2 separate regions of the Homo sapiens genome follow, and region 2 is linked to region 1. The links come from fine-mapping of genetic effects on gene expression. Tissue or cell type: whole blood. Region 1 holds a variant in brackets; the other region holds the start of a gene. All regions are shown on one strand. Distances are between the middles of the regions.

The links. PIP is the estimated chance that this variant, and not a neighbour inherited with it, causes the effect.
Region 2: it holds the start of MSC, and the variant in region 1 is fine-mapped to the expression of MSC in whole blood (TOPMed, PIP above 0.99).

What each region holds. Positions count from the first base shown.
Region 1 is chr8:71,998,844-72,001,690 of GRCh38, forward strand. All of the region lies in intron 4 of MSC-AS1 (MSC antisense RNA 1), which reads left to right. Among named protein-coding and RNA genes, the nearest start is that of TRPA1, 75 kb to the right of the region's middle. The variant C/T (reference allele first, on the strand shown) is at 1,533.
Region 2 is chr8:71,843,398-71,845,897 of GRCh38, forward strand. It overlaps MSC (musculin), which reads right to left and starts at 1,015. Exons shown (of 2, transcript NM_005098.4): 1 at 248-1,015. The coding sequence starts at 781. It overlaps MSC-AS1 (MSC antisense RNA 1), which reads left to right. Exons shown (of 5, transcript NR_033652.1): 1 at 1-307; 2 at 832-1,025. RefSeq lists silencers at 364-633, 2,473-2,500.

The DNA of each region.
Region 1 (2,847 bases):
CAGTGCTGTCCTGGTCACTTCCTATTTGCTCATCCCTGAGCAAATCCCAGGACCTCTTTGGGATCGCTTCTATCTTTTGCCTCCCAAAGGATTCTCTAACAAGGAGGTTGACGGCTTCCCCCAAGGAAGACTCAGAGCACAGGTTCAGGGCAAGTGTTTGATGATCACATTTCTGAATAAAGACAAATTCTTCATTTTGGACAAACAAAAATGAATCTCTGAAAAAACACATGCATGGGAAACCTTAGGGAAGATTCTTACTTTCAATTCAGTTATTGACCCACTTGACACATAATTGCACCCAGTGATACATGGTGGAAAGGAAAGAGTGCACTTAGCTTTTCCTCACAGAACAAACATTTTCTGTTATTTTATAAGCTCCCACAACATAGTTTCCCACATTTTCTAAGGAAAGGAATGTTACATGATAAACATTATACTCAGAGCCTTTACTGTAACAGTAAATTATTTCCTTCATTTTGTCTTAATTTCCAAGTACACCATGTTGAGATCAACAGATCTAGCTATTTACTGTTTAAAGCTCTGAAGTATTAATCCGTAAATTCAGGAAGCATTGCCATCTATAGTGTGCAGTTTGATGTACAGCAGATTGCTGGGTCTTAACAGTGCCTGCCTTGGCTGCAATTTCCCATTTGCTCAACATAAAGGAGAGGCTTGCTACCACAGACTGGAATCAGACATAAGCCATCTGCTCCCACGAGAGCCAAAGTTATAAGAACCATCTCTGTTTGTGGAACAAGTTGTGTTTACCCCAGCTTCTATGGAGTTTAGCTCTGCCCAACTCCTTCATCATGTTTATGTTTCATTGCTCCATTACATATTTCTCCCCAAATCCATCAGGCTGGGCATGATGGTGCATACCTGTAACCCCAGCACTTTGGTAGTCTGAGGTGGGAGGATGGCTTGAGCCCAGGAGTTCGAGACCAGCCTGAGCAACAGAGTGAGACCCCATTTCTACAAATAATAAAAAAGTTAGCTGGGCATGGTGGTGCACACCTGTGGTCCCCGCTGTTTGTGAGGCTGAGGCAGGAGGATAACTTGATCCCAGGAGGTCAAGGCTGCAGTGAGCCCTGATTGTACCATTGCACTCCAGCCTGTGTGACAGAGCAACACCCTGTCTCAAAAAAAAAAGGCCCCAAAATCAATCCTATGATTTCAGCAGCATTCATTGTGATTTCTTTCCACTATAATGTAATACCTTTCCTTATATATCACATTGTGCAACTACTACTATATGACATTGCCAGATCCATTTTCTTCTACCATTCACTGTCTATTGATTACCCAGTGACATCTGAACTAAGTGTGAAGTTCATAATGAATAGATTTTTAAAATAAAGAATGAGGACAATTCTCTGAGCCCCCCAAAGTTTATGAAATACAATTTATTTCACTGAACCTCTTAAGTTTAGTTAAATTGAAAGAAATGTCACCTCCCCAGCTGAAGTGTGAGCAACTTGACTAATGAGGCTGAGCCTTGCAGCTCCTTTGTAACCTCACCATAATTAGCA[C/T]GCTTAGGGGCCCCCGCATTGCTGACTGGCTAGCTAGAAGTGACTTTGCGCCCTACTTTTTACTACAATGTCTTTCAGAATGCAACTGTGATTGGTGGTTAGACCCTTTGCTTTCGAAACAAGTGCCCAAGAAATGCTTTTTTTTTTTTTTTTTTTGCTTCTGACTAATCTTCTGGGTTCATACATGATGCTGACTAATCTTGCTACTTTCAGATGTGATGCTGAGTGGTCTTCCGGAAATGCCAAGTAAGGAGGTACTTTAAGAATTAGCAAAGGTCCCTTAGTGAGAATTGACCTGGCATGAAGGGACATCACACATTGTGAGAGTATCTTATAATCTTGTAACTACTTCTATGAATAAGTGCATGCACAGTGACAAGCAATAAATAGGCCAGTTCTTCTGAAAATTCTAGAGAACAGTTAAGTGATGACCCTTCACAGTTTCTGTTTCTCTTCTGGTTCAGTTTTAACTCTTGTACAGTGTACAGGCTTTGATTGAGTACCGCCACTTTAAATTATACTTCTGAAGTTATGGAGGGCAGATTAGGAAGCAAGCGGCCTCTCCCCCAGTGATGGGCAAGGGTATACACTTCTATAGGCCACGTTTAGACCATACAGGAGGGAAGCAGCCAGTCCCTATCTTGTAAAGAGCCCTCCCAAAGGACTTTCAGCTAGGGATGAAGCAGCCTAAGCTCCTAAAGCCTAGATATACAATATTGGATATAAAAGGTAAGCGTGGGGAGTTGCAAGGGACCAGCAGAGGAGACATAGCCCATACCAGGGGACTGTAATCTCCAAATGCCTTCACAAAACTGTCTCCCAAGAGAGCCAGCTTTAAATATCTCTCATACCCAAGCGGTATCCATGTTAGATTAGAGCTGTCCTGCTCAAGTAAGACTTCTCCTTTCCCCTCCTGGAGGAGCCAGGGGCAGCACACTGAGTGTGGAAGGAGGGATTGGTGGGGAAAGAGAAAAGGGGCAAATTATAACTTATCCCCTCTATACTGCAGGCTTCTAAGCTGGAGGCAAACCAGGCTAGGAAAGGGGAAACTTCAAAGTTGGTGAGAATCTTTAGTTCTCATACTGAACTTTTTATTCTCTAAAAAAGGCTAGAATAGAAAAAGTCCACAGAGTGGTTTTCAGGGTTAGAATTAAGAAAAAATAAAATTGCTTTTAGTTTATCATTTGCCACGTAATCAAATACTATAATAGGCATATTATCAAATTTGACATCTCCTAACTAAATGAAAATGACAATACACTCCATATTAAAATTGCCGTTATGAAATAGAACAGAGGTTCAACAGAAAAATAAA
Region 2 (2,500 bases), 160 kb before region 1:
GTCAATGGCTGTCACTGGGGTACAATGTTCAGAACGATGCAAACAGACACGGAGGGTTGATTCTTCTTCAGGGAAATGGCTGGCCACTCCCTTGATTTGGGAGAAACTAAACTGGCCTTCTCGTTCCCAGTCCCAGAACCTCCACCCCTTTCGAATTCTTCCCAACGGGCTGACCCTGCCCGGCGCCCAGGAGCGCCCTGGGTATCTCCTGGCTGCTCTCCCGAATCCTTGCGCGCCGCGCCCCTACCAGGTTCACTGGGTGCACGTAGCCGTTCTCATAGCGGTCCTCCTGCAACAGCTGCCGCAGGTGAGCGATGTAACTGGAAGCCAGCCGGAGCGTGTCCAGCTTGGAGAGCTTAGTGTCGGGGGGCACCCAGGGCAGGCTGGTCTTGAGCCTGGAGAAGGCTTTGCTCAGCACGCGCATCCGGGCACGCTCACGGGCGTTGGCCGCGTTCCGCTGCGACTGCTTGCACTCTGCGGCTGAGCCCTTGGCCGGGAGGGGCTTCTTGCCACCACCGCCCGCGCTACCACCTGCGCCGCCGCCCCCAGCCACACGGGGCCGCTTCCTCTTGCAGCCTTCCGCGCTGCCGGCTGTGCCCAGAGCGCAGCGCTCCTCCTCGCCGTCGGGGTCCTCCTCCTCTGCCGACGAGTTGTCACTGGGCGAGGCGTAGCTGCGCTCTACGCCGCGGAGGGGCGGCCTCTTGGAGGCGGGGACCGGGTACTCCCGCTGCAGCCCCCGAAGCTCCATCTCCTCCGGATCACTCACCGAGCCCGTGGACATCCCGTTGTCCCCCTTGCCCACACGCGTCCTCTTTCCTCCCCCCTGGCCAGTCTCGCTGTCTCCGCCTTCCGCTCCCTGGCGGAGGCGGAGGCCAGAGAGCGCTCCAAGGAAGACTAAAAACCCAGGCCGGGAAGCGCGGGGTGAGAAAGCGAGGTGGGTGGCGAGAGCGTGAGCGCCCCTCTGCTGACCCCGGGGAGCGTGGACTACGAGTTGGCGCCCAAGTCCAGAATCCGCGCGCACCGCGGTAAGCTGCGCCTTTTGAAAAGGCTATCTGTACTCCTTGGAACAAACCACCCCGGGCAAAGAAGAGGGGGTTGTAAAGGGGGCCAAGAGGTGGGGCAGGGGCGTGGAAGGGGTGGGGACCGCTTTTCTGCATGCCGAAGAGCGGTTGGTGGAGGCGGGGGAAGGGGACGTCTCTGCAGAGCCGAGATTTGGGCTCTGAAGCCCGACGGCCCTTCAACATGTCTGCGCAGGATAAGTGAGCTTTCGGGGAGTGAAGGGGCACATCTTGTTCCTACCGACGGTGCTTCTACCCCCAGGTAATCTTAGCAGTGGCAAAGATTACCAGACACTTAGAAACGACGGGATTCCGACCTCTGCTTGCCTGCCAGTCTTTCCAGTAGAACTCAGTTTTCAAGTTAACCATTCATGATGTATGATTGTCTACCCAAGCCTTGCTGGACAAGAGAAAAAGCAGAACAGGCAAACAACATCCAACAATGCACAAGTTACCTCTCATTTTCCTCCTCCTTTTCTTATAATATACCTTCATGGTTTACAAAAATGGTTACAATGGTTCGTTGCCTTTTCAAATAACATCTGTAACTTAATGATATTATCTCCAATTTGCAGAACTTGAAGCTGAGCCGCCTAGATAGACGTTAAGTAAAAGACCCAAACTTATTAGGCTAAGTAGAAAAAAAGATTCAAAATCCGCGTTTTGAAATTCTGGCCCGTCGGTATTCTAGTCAGCTCCGTGCCTCCGGGTCACACATCACTGGATGTTGTAGCTGGTATTTTCCACTATCTTGAGAGTTCCATGCGTGATGTGATTTTGTTTTAATACCACAATGCGTGTGTTGGAGGATCCGGCCCTAAAGCTTTGCATTATAATGTAGGGAATCCTTGCTATTGTATTTAATAGATTGTGTATTGAAGAGCGAGCTCCTGGAAGCAGAATGCTAAGTTAGCACAATCGTCCATTCAAAGTAAAAACGACAAAGGAGCACCCTGAATGATCATGTTCCATTCCAAACAAGACTAAAACATCCTGCTCTTCCACACAAGAAAACACAACAATTTTGCAGTCTCATTATTTCCTAACTCGAAGGTCATCGCAGTTCCTGGTCAGGGGATAAGTACGTCTGTGGATACGGGCCCCAGTGGTCAGAGACTGAGTGCCCGCTGTGTGCCCGTCACTGTACTCGCGGCTTGTGAGCAGCTCACTGAGTAATAAAACCCGTATGAGTTTGGCATATGGTTACCCCATTTTACAATGATGAAACTGAGTCGTCACACAGGCTTAGGTGTTCACTTGTTCTTTTCCTGAAAGTCCACAGGCTCCCAAGCTGAGCAAGGTGCAAGGGGACCTATGTGGAGTCAGTCCAGGACAGAGCTGGCAGAGATAGCTGGGCCAGCCTGGCTCCCGCCAGTTCGTACAGCAGAACAAATGCGTCCAGCTCGATGGCTGAAGTGCTGCAACAGGTGGCTGGCAGAGGC